Homo sapiens: one gene and its partners. The protein of the gene in region 2 purifies or fractionates together with the protein of the main gene of each other region. This does not show direct contact. Each region holds a gene or a part of one and is shown on either strand. Other genes may lie near its edges.

The links. Proteins that work in one complex are often made in the same cells at the same time.
Region 1: the proteins of MAP4K1 (region 2) and C11orf58 purify together in Homo sapiens (affinity purification with mass spectrometry, with the first as the bait; one study listed by BioGRID). This does not show direct contact.
Region 3: the proteins of MAP4K1 (region 2) and SPAG9 purify together in Homo sapiens (affinity purification with mass spectrometry; one large-scale study listed by BioGRID and IntAct). This does not show direct contact.
Region 4: the proteins of MAP4K1 (region 2) and IQGAP2 purify together in Homo sapiens (affinity purification with mass spectrometry; one large-scale study listed by BioGRID and IntAct). This does not show direct contact.

What each region holds. Positions count from the first base shown.
Region 1 is NC_000011.10:16,745,147-16,748,646, reverse strand, and holds part of C11orf58 (small acidic protein), read right to left. Parts: intron 551-3,500; coding exon 490-550; intron 1-489.
Region 2 is NC_000019.10:38,611,454-38,614,953, forward strand, and holds part of MAP4K1 (mitogen-activated protein kinase kinase kinase kinase 1), read right to left. Parts: intron 2,993-3,500; coding exon 2,937-2,992; intron 2,840-2,936; coding exon 2,792-2,839; intron 2,633-2,791; coding exon 2,590-2,632; intron 2,500-2,589; coding exon 2,427-2,499; intron 1,290-2,426; coding exon 1,158-1,289; intron 1-1,157. UniProt on the Homo sapiens protein: Serine/threonine-protein kinase, which plays a role in the response to environmental stress. Appears to act upstream of the JUN N-terminal pathway.
Region 3 is NC_000017.11:50,988,369-50,991,868, reverse strand, and holds part of SPAG9 (C-Jun-amino-terminal kinase-interacting protein 4), read left to right. Parts: intron 1-1,200; coding exon 1,201-1,419; intron 1,420-1,996; coding exon 1,997-2,192; intron 2,193-3,500. UniProt on the Homo sapiens protein: The JNK-interacting protein (JIP) group of scaffold proteins selectively mediates JNK signaling by aggregating specific components of the MAPK cascade to form a functional JNK signaling module.
Region 4 is NC_000005.10:76,700,285-76,703,784, forward strand, and holds part of IQGAP2 (ras GTPase-activating-like protein IQGAP2), read left to right. Parts: intron 1-791; coding exon 792-929; intron 930-2,197; coding exon 2,198-2,306; intron 2,307-3,500. UniProt on the Homo sapiens protein: Binds to activated CDC42 and RAC1 but does not seem to stimulate their GTPase activity. Associates with calmodulin.

The DNA.
Region 1 (3,500 bases), on a different chromosome or scaffold from region 2:
CAGCCTCCCAAGCAGCTGGGATTACAGGTGTGAGCCACCACACCAGGCTAATTTTTTTTTTTTTTTTTTTTTTAGTAGAGACACGGTTTTGCCATGTTGACCAGGCTGGTGATTTGCCTCAAGTGATCGGCCCACCTCAGCCTCCCAAAATGCTGGGATTACAAGCATAAGCCAAGGTGCCCAGCATTTTTTTCTCTCCTTTTTTTTTTTAAATTTAAGAGATGAGGTCTTGCTCTGTAGCCCAGGCTGGAATGCAGTGGTGCAATCATAGCTTCATTGCAGCCTCAAACTCCTGGGCTTAAGTGATCCTCCCACTTTAACCTCCCAAATAACCGGGATTACAGGCATTAAGCCACTGCACCCAGCTCTAATTATAATATTTTAATAATTTACACAATTACATGCCAAAGTAGAATATCCTGAAACATGAACACATACTTCATATTCTGAATTTAGCACTTCCATTTTAATTACACTTTACTTTCTTACCGGTTCGGAAGTGAGATGTTGATTTGTGATCTCCTATAACAAGACGACCAGTATGTTCTTTCTATAAGAAGGTTGAAAATGTATTAGCATTTGAGACCACTAATTTAACCTTATTGGGTATCTACTATGTGCTGAAAACTATTCTAGGCTTCTGGGACACAGTGAAGACAAAAGATTAAATTAGAATCTCTGCCTTTAAGGACCTTACATTCTAGCAAGGGTAGGAATGGGGAAGGGAGACAGGCAAACGTAATCACTATTTATACTATGTTAGAAAGTACTAAGTGTGATTAAAACAAAACAGACCTGAGTAAGGAGTAGAGCAGGTTGGAATTTTAAATAAGATGAATAGATAACTAGAAAATTGAGTCAATCTAAACATTTTCTTTCCTAAAGGCCAGTTAAATGAGTTGCTTTAACTTCCCACCTGCTCTTTCTGCTGCCTCAAGTATATCTCATGGAGAGAAAGCAAATGAGATTTAGCCTGACAAAAATGAAATAATTGAAACTTATAATGTATCATATAAAGTGATAGATCTTATTACAGTATATCACAATCATTAGCTATCTCTTTACTATTTGACAATAAACTACTAATCTCAACTTGTCAAAAAGAACAATTTAAAACAATCCTGTACTCTAAACATAAAAATACATATGATTCAATATTACCAACTGATTAAACTGCATAATTACTCTCAATTTAATCAGTCCAATCCACTCTTTATGGTTCATATTTAGTTTCATAAGTGCTCATTAAAACACCATGTGAAGGTGAGAATAAATGTGACTTTGGAAAGCAATCTTAACCAATCATCTGTGAAGATACAGTAACAAACCTTCCTATTGTGAAAAAATGGCAGATACAGTCTCCATACACAAAAATGATACTACCGAAAAACTTCAAGTGTTAATGCTCATTGCTTTATGTGCCATTAACACATAAGCAAATCAATAATTCAGTGTGTTACTAGTTTAGGTTGCAAAACTGACAGCCATTAACAAGATTTTAATATAACAGCATCAAGTTATTCCAGGATGATGACAGTATTGCACTGATCTATTCATATGTTCTTAGCTGGTTCTTCCTGTGACCAATAAAATATTCATGATAGCCGGCTAGGATTACAAATATACTTTGTGGCCACAAAATGGAATACCTCTAAACACCCCATATGAAGATCAAAGCTACAATCTTGGCCTCACAAAGAATTTAATCTATGGGCCAGGCGCAGTGGCTCATGCCTGTAATCCCAGCACTTTGGGAGGCAAAGGAGGGTGGATCACGAGGTCAGGAGTTCAAACGGTGAAGCCCTGACTCTACTAAAAATACAAAAATTAGCCAGTCATGGTGGCAGGTGCCTGTAATCCCAGCTACTTGGGAGGCTGAGGCAGAGAACTGCTTGAACCCGGGAGGCAGAGGTTGCAGTGAGACTGTCTCAAAACAACAACAACAAAAAAAAGAGAATTTAATCTATGCTGAACAACCTATTTACTAGTTAGTCAACTTCCATATATTTTATATTAGGATGTTCTTCCTAAGTACTTGAATAAGTTTCATTCTACTAAGTTGAATATGGCCCCTAAACTAACACTTACCTTACATATCCTTAACAAATCTTTTAAGTCCTCACTTAATTTTCAATGATAGGTTCTTGGAAACTTCGATTTTAACTGATTTTAGTTGAAACAACCTATAATGAAAACAATTTTCCTCCTTATCAGTGTTACAGTGAAACAACTTTATTGTCAGTTTGCCAAAGGTTAGTTTCCAAGAACCACAAGGGATGTTAAGTGAGGACTTAATATATTTGCATGAAACAAGAGAAATTGCAGACTATTTTCTATGACAAATTACAAATTGGGAAATCTCGATTAATGAGATATTATACAAATGCTTTATTTAAATAGGTCTCAGTGTTTTACATGACCTCTTCCTATCCCCAAACCTACTGTTGTAGTCTGGCTAACTCCTTCTCATCCTTTGAGATTCAGATCAATTCTATTTTGGGGAAGCTTTCTTGCACTGCTAAACCAGAGTTAGCTGCCCTCTGTGATTCCACAGCACTATGTGCATGGCTTTCTCACAGCAATTACAATTCTGTATTGCTATTATCTGGTTTCCTCCATTACATAATAGCTTCAAACATGTATTATTGATCTATATGACCACCCAGGATCCAGCACAGTAGTAGGTAGTCTGTAATTGTTGGGAAAATGAATGAATGTATTCCCATGTGCATAACAAAACAAAGAGCAGAATTTCATTTTAATGTGCTTAAAAAAAGAGAAAAAAAGCTTTCCTATTTCTTTTCAATTTAGTTTGTAGGAAGTCTGTTAGGACAATGTTAGGAAAATAAATTTACTTGCTTACAAAAACTAAGTATCTAGAGATCCCTGTATAAACTGCTAGGATAAAGAAAGGTTTTTACAATAGATATTTTCCTGGCACTTGTTTTATATAGTTGACCCTGAACACAGGATTAAACTGTGTGGATCCACTTATACTTGAATATACTTCTGCCTCTGCCACTCCCAGACAGTAAGACAATCCCTCCTTTTCAGCCCACTCAACATGAAAACTATGAAGATGAAGACCTTTATGATAATCCACTTCCAATTAATGAAGAGTCAATTATTTTCTCTTCCTTATAATTTTCTTGATAACATTTCCTTTTCTTTATTGTAAGAATACAGGATATAATACATTTAACACCCAAAATATGTGTTAACTGATAATTATGTTATCAGTAAGACTTCCAGTCAACAGTAGGCTATTAGTAGTTAAGTTGTTGGGGAGTCAAAAGTTATATGCAAACTTCTGACTGCCTGCAGAACCAGCACCCCTAACCCCCACATTGCTCAAGGGTCAACTGTACCTTCTATTAACGTTAACCAAACTGACAGGCATTTCAAAGTATCTTGAACATTTTTAAAATTAAGGTTTTCTTTCCCCCTGGTGTTCTACACATTCAGAGAAACTTCTCTATCTAGTAACAAACTATAGAAAT
Region 2 (3,500 bases):
TGCCTCTCCTAAGGGAAGCCATTTATGAAGTGATAGAGCTATGGCAAGGCCAGGTGTGGTGGTTCACGCCCGTAATCCCAACACTTTGGGAGGCCAAGGCGGGAGGATAGCTTGAGCCCAGGAGTTGGAGACCAGCTGGGGCAACATAGTGAGACAAAAAAAAAATTTTTTTTTTAAATAGCTGGGTGTGGCAATATGGGTCTGTAGGACCAGCTATGTGAGAGGCTAAGGCAGGAGGATCATTTGAGCCCCGGCATTCAAGGCTGAAGTGAACTACGATCGTGCCGCTGCACTCCAGCCTGGGTGACAGAGCCAGATCCTGTCTCTAAAAATAATAAGAATTAATTAATTAATTTAAAAAATGTCTGGGCGTGGTGGCTCACACCTTTAATCCCAGCATTTTGGGAGGCCAAGGCAAGTGGATCACTTGAGGTCAGGAGTTCAAGACCAGCCTGGTCAACATAGTGAAACCCCGTCTCTACCAAAACATACAAAAATTAGCCAGGCATGGTGGCGTGCACCTGTAATCCCACACTTGGGAGGTTGAGGTGGTAGAATCACTTGAACCCTGGAGGCAGAGGTTGCAGTGAGCTGAGATCTTGCCACTGCACTCCAGCCTGGGCAACAAGAGTGGGACTCCATCTCAAAAATAAATAAATAAATAAAAATAAAAATAAATAAATAGGCTGGGTGCAGTGGTTCACGCCTGTAATCCCAGCACCTCCGGAAGCCAAGATGGGCAGATAACCTGAGGTCAGGAGTTCGAGACTACCCTGGCCAACATGTTGAAACCCCGTCTCTACTAAAAATACAAAAATTAGCCGGGCGTGGTGGTGCACACCTGCAGCCTCAGCTACTCGGGAGGCTGAGGCAGGAAAATAGCTTGAACCCAGGAGATGGAGGTTGCAGTGAGCCAAGATTGTGCCACTGCACTCCAGCCTGGGCAACAGAGCAAGACTCTGTCTTAAAAAATAAAAAATAAAATAAAATAAAATATTAAATTAAATTTAAAAAATAGAGCTGCAGCACGTGCAAAGGTAGGCTCAAGTGGTGATCCCTGAATTGGAGGTTCCTGGGATGGAAGGCGGAAGCTGAGGGTGGGCTTTGGGCCAGGGCTAGACAGGATCTCTGGGCCTGGGGACCCCACGCCTGCCTACCTGAGAGGGTGCACATCAAAGAGCGGTGGCTGTAGCTCGGCCAGTTCGATGGCCGTGATGCCCAGGGACCAGATGTCACACAGCTCATTGTATCCTCCCTTCAGGGCCACAGCTGCCACTTCCGGAGCCATCCTGGGGGCAGACACGCTCAGAGAGCCAGAGGTGGCATGGGGACAGGAAGGGAAGGAGGGGCAGAGAAGGAGAAGGAGTTGAGGGGAGACGCAGCACACAGAGAGTCAGATGGAGAGACAGAGGGACAGGAGTAAAGACAGACACAGGCAGATGAAGACAGAGATGCAGACGGGGCGCGATGGCTCACGCCTGTAATCCCAGCACTTTGGGAGGCTGAGCAAGGAGAATGGCTTAGGCCCAGGAGTTTGAGACCAGCCTGGGCAACTTATCAAGACCCTATCTCGGCTGGGCACGGTGGCTTTTGCCTGTAATTCCAGCACTTTGGGAGGTCAAGGCGGACAGATCACCTGAGGTGAGGAGTTCGAGACCAGCCTGACCAACATGGTGAAAGCCCGTCTCTACTAAAAGTACAAAAATTAGCCGGGCGTGGTGGCAGGCGTCTGTAATCCCAGCTACTTGGTGGCTGAGGCAGGAGAATTGCTTGAACCTGGGAGGTGAAGGTTGCAGTGAGCTGAGACCATGCCACTGCACTCCAGCCTGGGCAACAGAGCAAAACTCCGTCTCAAGAAAAAAAAAAAGAACGAAAAAGAAAAAAAAAAAAAAACAACACCATCTCTACACAAATTTTAAAAATTAGCCAGGTGTCATGGTGCACACCTGTGGTCCCAGCTACTTGGGAGGCTGAGGTGGGAGGATCTCCTGAGCCCAGGAGTTCTAGGCTGCAGTGAGCCGTGACTATGCCACTGCAATCCAGCCTGGGCCACAGAGTGAGACCCTGTCTCTAAAAACAAAACAAAATGAAAAGACAGAGAGGCAGAGACAGAGAGTGAGAGAGACAGAAACAAAGAGACAGAGAGCACTGCAAACTGAGCTAGAGGAAAAAGACAGAAATGGATATGGAGGGACAGAGAAATCAAGATAAAAATCAACACAAACACCGAGAGCAATGGCCAGAAAAGGGCACAAAGAGAGAGGAAAATGGAAAACTCAAGCGACACCCAGAGAGAATGAAAGAATCTTCCAAGGAGAAAGGACGAGGCAGGGGAACGGAGCCAGGAAAGAGGATCCCGGGGAACCAGGGTAGGAAAAACCACTGACCCCCACTCCACCCCTAGCTGCCCGCTGGGCGCCACTCACCAGTAGGGTGTCCCAATGAAAGAGAGGCGTCTGGCCAGTGTAGCCCCAATCTGGGCCGAGATGCCAAAGTCAGCTGGAAGCAGAGGGAGACATAGTGATCTGGGGTCCACTGCGCTTCCGGCCCCCCAGTCAGCCCCCCTGCTCAACCCCCAGCCTTACTCACCCAATCTGACCTCCCCAGCATCATTGATGAGGATGTTAGCTCCCTGGGAATGAGAGGGGATATGGGAGGCTGCAGAGACTCTCCCCAGCCCAGTGCTAGCCCACTCCGCCAGCTCAAACTACCCTGATCCCTGAGCCCCTGAAATGCCACTCCCATCTCCTGGGCCCCACCCCCCAACAGCACCCCTACACCCCCAGACCACCTTGATGTCCCTGTGTATCTTCTTCTGTGAGTGCAAATAGGCCAGTCCCTGGGGAGAAGGGTGGACAAGGGGACAGTGAGTGTTTGGGGGCTGGAGTGGGGCCACCCTCCCCTCCCATCCCCAGAATCCCCAGGCCTCTCCTTACCTGGAGCACTTCCCGGCAGACATAGCTAATCTGGAGCTCTGACAGGGAGCCTGTCACTGCAAAGGTCACCCCGGCCAGGCCAGGCATTGGATGGGAGCCAGGGAACCTGGGCTGGGGAGTCCTGCCCCCCCACACCAGCTAAGAGGGTGCCATAGGGAGAGGGGAAATAGGATAGGACCAGTGGGAGGGGGAGATGGTGGGGTGGTCAGTGACAGAAAGAGGCAGCAATGCAAATAAAAGAGGCCAATAGGCCTGGCGCAGTGGCTCATGCCTATAATCCCAGCACTTTGGGAGGCCAAGGTGGGTGGATCACTTGAGGTCAGGAGTCCGAGACCAGCCTGGCCAACATGGTGAAACCCCATCTCTACTAAAAAATACAAAAATTAGCCAGGCATAGTGGTGCATGCCTGTAATCCCAAGTACTCAGGAGGCTGAGGCAGGAGAATCGTTTGAACCCAGGAGGTGGAGGTTGCAATGAGCCGAGATCGTACCACTGCACTCCAGCCTGGGCAATAGAAGGAGGCTCTGTCTCAAAAAAAAAAAAAAAAAAAAAAAAAAAGGAAA
Region 3 (3,500 bases), on a different chromosome or scaffold from region 2:
GCGGATCACCTGAGGTCAGGAGTTCGAGACCAGCCTGGCCAACATGGTAAAACCCCGTTTCTACTAAAAATACAAAAATTAGCCAGGTGCAGTGGCAGGCGCTTGTAATCGCAGCTACTTGGGAGGCTGAGGCAGGAGAATTGCTTGAACCTGGGAGGCAGAGGTTGCAGTGAGCCGAGACTGTACCATTGCACACCAGCCTGGGCAACAAGAGTGAAACTCTGTCGCCAAAAAAAAAAAATAATGGTGATGGCTACACAATGTTATAAATATTAATGCCAATATTGTAAATATTAGTGCCACTGAATTGTACACTTTTAAATGGTTAAAGTGGCAAATTTTGTTTATATATATATTATTTTTACTGCAATAAAAGTTTTTAGTGTGATATAAATAAAACAATTTTCTAAATTAAAAAATGAGATTTATTTTTATATTGTAAATATTTTTATATTATAAATGCTTAGTTTTTAATGTTTTACTAATATCTTAATCAACCTATATACTTGGGGCATTTAATTTTTAACAGTAATGGATAGAAGCTTATACTTCAAGTAGTAGCAGTAGTCTTGATGATTTAAAAGAATTTTTTTTTGGCTGATGTTGTCAGATATAATAGATTGTTTTTAACCTGTGGCTGCTGAGGAGCTCACTAAGAACAGAAGCTGGCTAGGCGTGGTGGCTCGCACCTGTAATCCTAGGACTTGTCTGAGGTTGGTGGATCCCTTGAGGCCAGGAGTTCAAGACCAGCCTGACCAACATACCGAAACCCTGTCTCTACCAAAAATACAAAAATTAGCCAGGCGTGGTGGCTCACACCGGTAGTCCCAGCTACTCAGGAGGCTGAGGCAGGAGAATCACTTAAGCCAAGGAGGCGGAGGTTGCAGTGAGCTGAATCATGCCACTGTACTCCAGCCTGGGCGACAGAGTAAGACTCTGTCTCAAAAAAAAAAAAAAAAAAGTTTATTTTCTGACATTTTTATGTTTATTTGCACTTGTGTTAATAGAAGTATTTTCTTAATTTTTTAAGTTACCTTCCCATATTGTGAAGATTTGTTTATGTAAATTTAATGCTACCTGTATTCAACTACCTGTACATCTCACCTGCATAACTCTCATTTCAAACCTGTAATTGTTTTAGTAAAAAAAATGTTATTTATAGAAGTTTACTTTGCTGTTACAAGAAGATTTATTTTTCAGGTGCACGAGAAACAGACTACCCTGCAGGAGAAGATCTTTCAGAATCTGGTCAGGTAGACAAAGCATCTTTATGTGGAAGTATGACAAGCAACAGCTCAGCAGAGACAGACAGCCTGTTAGGAGGCATCACAGTGGTTGGTTGTTCTGCAGAAGGTGTGACGGGAGCTGCCACTTCCCCTAGTACAAATGGTGCTTCTCCAGTGATGGATAAACCACCAGGTATATCCATTCTCTTTACCTGCCATCTGTATAGAGTCTAAGGCTACACTCAGATGCCTCATTATGGACTTAATTTAGATCTTAAGTAACAAGGTTGAAAGAACTTGAAAGAAGATACTGTAGGCCGGGCGTGGTGGCTCACGCCTGTAATCCCAGCACTCTGGGAGGCCAAGGCGGGTGGATCACGAGGTCAGGAGATCAAGACCATCCTGGCTAACACAGTGAAACCCTGTCTGTACTAAAAAGTACAAAAAATTAACCGGGCGTGGTGGCGGGTGCCTGTAGTCCCAGCTACTCGGGAGGCTGAGGCAGGAGAATGGCGTGAACCTGGGAGGTGGAGCTTGCAGTGAGCCAAGATCACGCCGCCGCACTCCAGCCTGGGCAACAGAGCAAGACTCTGTCTCAAAAAAAAAAAAAATGCTGTAATGACTGTTAAATGGAATGAAGAATTCTTAATTTCATGGTACAGTGTGAAGGAGTGGGTAGATGGAATGGAATTCTATAACAGGGGTTTGTGTGGGGAAATAATTGGAGGAGAAAAGCCCAGACTTGGAATAGTGTTTTATTTACTTTGTAGAAATGGAAGCAGAAAATAGTGAGGTTGATGAAAATGTTCCAACAGCAGAAGAAGCAACTGAAGCTACAGAAGGGAATGCGGGGTCAGCTGAAGACACAGTGGACATCTCCCAAACTGGCGTCTACACAGAGCATGTCTTTACAGATCCTTTGGGAGTTCAGATCCCAGAAGACCTCTCCCCAGTGTATCAGTCGAGGTATAATAATGGGTCATCAACTTAGGCAACTGGGTGAAGTGCACAAATAAAAGGAACCAAAATAATCTCAAACAGTCAAAAGATTTCCACTAATTAGTGTCACTGTGGTGGATTAAAAGATACCTATTCTTGTGATAATTTCATGTATTCCCGCTCCATCATTCTCGCTGGATATTCCCCCCCATTTCTTCTGTACACCTTCCAATTTAAAAAAAAAATCTTATCTATAAAAGTATAATCATGCATCAGTCAACAATGGGGATATGTTCTGAGAAATGTGTCATTAGGTGATTTCATCATTGTGTGAACATCATAGAGTGCATTTACACAAATCTAGATGGTATGGCTTATCACACACCTAGGCCATATGGTATAGCCCATTGCTCCTAGGCTAGAAACCTGTACAGCATGTTACTGTACTGAATACTGTAGATAATTGGAACATAACGGTAAGTATTTGTGTATGTAAACATGCACAAGGTACTGTAGAAATATAGTAGTATAATCTTGTGGAACCACCACCATATATTCTGTCCATCATTTTCCAAAATGGTTTTACCAGGTGTGTGACTATATATTAGTCAAAATCTTTCTGTTCATTTTCTCCTCTGATCTGTTTTTTTTTCTTTTTTTTTGTACTTACTGTCTTCCATTCTATAAGTAATTCTTTGTCATTTTAATCCCACCCCTACTCTAATTTTCACTCCAGTTATCAGCAAAATTGGCCATTGTTTAAATCTGCCATTGTACAAGTTTCCCACATGGGTGTGGATGACCTTTTTGAATTTAGTTTTCATGCAAATATTTTATTAAAAAACAACTCAGATAGTTCCAGTGGCTCATGCCTATAATCCCAGCACTTTGGGAGTCTGAGCAGGAGGATTGCTTGAGTCCAGGAGTTCAAGACCAACCTGAGCAACATAGTGAGACCCTCATCTCTACAAAAAACTTAATGATTCGCTGGGCGTGGTAGCGTGCACCTATGGTCCCAGCTACTCAGGAGGCTGAGGTGGGAGGATTGCTTGAGCCCTGGGAGCTGGAGGCTACAGTGGGCCATGATATCACCACTGCACTGCCGCCTGGGAAACAGAACAAGACTCTGTCTCAGAAAACAAACAAACCAAAGAAAACTGTTTGTTTTAGGCTCCTCCGTTAAAGGGTTGGTTAATCTAGGCCCATTTAGTGAATTATTTTATTTTCTTTCCTGCCTTTTCTAGATCCCCTCTAGATGAGAGTCTCTTTAAACTAGATCCTTTTTAAAGTTTAATATTCTTAGTGTATAAAGTAAGAAAGATTAATTAATAACCC
Region 4 (3,500 bases), on a different chromosome or scaffold from region 2:
GTGGAATTAAGAGTACCAGCCTCACCAGCTTGGCTGACGTGGCGAAACTCCTTCTCCTCTAAAAATACAAAAATTCGCCGGATGTGGTGGCATGTGCCTGTAATCCCAGCTGGAGGTTGAGGCAGGAGAATCACTTGAACCCGGGAGGCAGAGGTTGCAGTGAGCCAAGATCACGCCACTGCACTCCAGCCTGGGCAATAGAGCAAGATTCCATCTCAAAACAAAACAAAAAACCTCCCCCCAAAAAAGCAAAGAGTACCAGACTCACAAGTATGGTTATGAGAGCTACATGATATAGTATATAGCAAAGGAATTTATTAGTTTAAAAGTACTATGGAAATGTTAATTTTGGAAATGTGAGGTAATATTTATAAGGCACTTAGAACAATGCTAGCCACATAGTGTTTGTTAAATAGATTAAAACAGTCCTAGTAATATCGTTATCTAGGAATACACAGTTCATGTTATTGCACCAAAGCTACTTCTGAAATGACTAAAGATAGCCACTTGGTTCAATATACCTGAGAAAATAGAGTGTAAGTTTTATTAAAAATGTTAGTCTGTAATGCAAACTTCAGTCACTTGGGAAATCCCTTTCCCCACAAACAGTTTAGTAGTGAAGTTGCACTCTATGGACAAAATTACCTACTATCACAAAATAAAAAAGTGTATATTCAGCGCTCTGAGGGCCAGGTATGAACAGCGATGTCACTCTGAGTATGGTAATCGCACTACCAGAAGCCTCTGCATTTGCCATCATAACAACAAATGTTCTGTTCTTATTTTGTCAGAAATACTCGGAGATCAATTAAACTAGATGGAAAAGGAGAACCCAAAGGGGCGAAGAGAGCGAAGCCAGTGAAGTACACTGCAGCAAAGCTGCATGAGAAAGGTGTCCTGCTAGATATAGATGATCTTCAAACAAACCAGTAAGTGTGACCTGGAATCTGCATAGAACACGCATGCCATTTGATTTCTTGTGGCCTTGGAGAGAGCTCCATTTGGTCTAGCAAGGCTTAACCTCAATTACTGATGGGTGACAAGGGAAGAATACACAAATTGTTATGGCTACTCTTCCCTTGGCCTCAGCATCTGGTGCTGTCAGTCATATGTAGTGTTGATCAGTGGTTGTCTTTCCCGTGGCTTGTGCAATATGTTTGGATTGGTGAACCTCCAGAACTGAGTCATAGCAATGAGAGTAAAAGGCTGTCTTTTGGTCTTGATGGATGAATTATCTACCATTGCAAAATAGCACCTTTCTCATTTAAAATAGGCTGTGCCAACCCCTGGATCAGAGCCATTTCCAAAGCATGCTGTGAGTGTGTGTATTCGGTGTAGTGGAAAAAACAAACCCTCCTTCACAGCCCCACATCAGGCACCATGTGCTGCCTCCTTTTAAAGGGGTCATGAGCCCAGTGTTCCATCACTTTCTTGTCCTAAAATCTCAAGGGAAGCCAGACTCACTGGCATTTGCCTTTTCTTTAACTCCTGCCTTCCTTCAAAGCCTGACTTCTGTTTATCCCATGAAACCTCCTGACAACACCAACTCAGAAGAAAATGCTTCTTCCAGAGATGGAGTCTCACTCTGCGGCCCAGGCTGGAGTGCAGTGGTGGGATCTTGGCTCACTGCAACCTCCACCTCCCAGGTTCAAGCGATTCTCCTGCCTCAGCCTCGCGAGTAGCTGGGATTACAGGCACATGCCACCGCCCAGCTAATTTTTGTATTTTTAGTAAAGATGGGGTTTCACCATGTTGGCCAGGTGATCCGCCCGCCTCGGCCTCTGAAAGTGCTGGGATTACAGGCGTGAGCGACTGCGCCTGGCCTGAAGTTTCTATAAAAGTTATCATCTGAAATACTCAATTGGCTATAGGTCAATAATGTTCATGTTCTGTGACTCACATATTTCCAATTATGTTTTATGCTCTTGAAGAGCAAGGACCGTATCTTCTATTTCTTTTGTAATAAAGCACCTATGTCAGAACTCTATGAGCTACAGATCTCAACAATAGCCATCAAACCTAGTGTTTGGAGAGCAGAATTGGGGGAAAGATGACGTGAGGTTTTTGGTGACTTCCTTAGGATTTTCTCAACAAGCCATTATTTAAAAATGATTATTTGAGATTCCATTAGTTTGTTTCAGCTTTAAGCACATCTGTATTTGTAATTTCTCATGTATGAATGTTCCTTTCTTCACAGGTTTAAGAATGTTACATTTGATATCATAGCTACTGAAGATGTAGGCATTTTCGATGTAAGATCAAAATTCCTTGGTGTTGAGATGGAAAAGGTGCAACTCAATATTCAGGTAAGCTGCTGGAATTTCTGCACATTGATGATAAATTTTATATGTGGATCATACATTGCTACCCTGGCTCTCTCTCTTCAGGACAACAATAAAGTTTAACAGAAAACCAGTGCCAGCCTTATTTGCCAATATTTGTTAAGTGTTGATGATTTTTAAGAGCTGTGACTTTTCAAATGATTGGAAATTGATATGCTTCTAGCTGGCAAACCATAGCAGTCAGTTTCTCTAAGCCATGTTTCCATTTTAAAGCTTAGACAAAAGAATATAATTTAAAAGTATTCAGAGCTATTAAATAAATGCTATAAATTTTCCTTTTATTGGAAACTTGCATTTCTTTCTAAGACTATGTATGCCCAGGACTGGAACTTTCATGATCTCATTTTTCCCTCTCTCCTAGAATGGTTTTTCTTTTTTGTGGGGGGAGGGGGTGGGGGTGGGGCATTGAGAAGGGGTCTTGCTCTGTCGCCCAGGCTGGAATACAGTGGCATGTATGCCCAGGACTGGAACTTTCATGATCTCATTTTTCCCTCTTTCCTAGAATGGTTTTTCTTTTTTGTGGGGGGAGGGGGTGGGGGGGGGCATTGAGAAAGGGTCTTGCTCTGTCGCCCAGGCTGGAATACAGTGGCACAATCATGGTTCACTGCAGCCTCAACCTCCTGGGCTCAAGCGATCCTCCTGCTTCAGCCTCTCGAGTAACTGGTACTACAGGCACACACCACCACATCTGGCTAATTTCTGTATTTTTTGTAGAGACAGGGTTTCACCACGTTGCCCAGGCTTGTCTTAGACTACTGGGCTCAAGTGATCTGCCTGGCTTAGCCTCCAAAAGTGCTGGGATTACAGGCATTAGCCACCACACCTGGCCCCTAGAATAGTTTTTACGTCAATTTATTAACTCTATTTGTCAAATGCTTGGGATCACAGGAATGAAAGGCATTATGCAAAACAGATATCTATACATAGAAAAATGGTGTTTGCAATATAAATTATCGTTATTTTATCATAAGAGCCACATTTAAGCCAAATACACGTAAATGAAAACCGAGAAATCCAGTTTCTGTGCAAAAAAAAAAAAAAAGAGAGCACTGCAAACAAATGTTCATCTGCCCCCAACTTCTTAATCCTTAGCACAAAACCAATTTAAAGAAGTAATTTATTTTTCTTTTTTGATGTAACACTTTTTAAATGGAAATA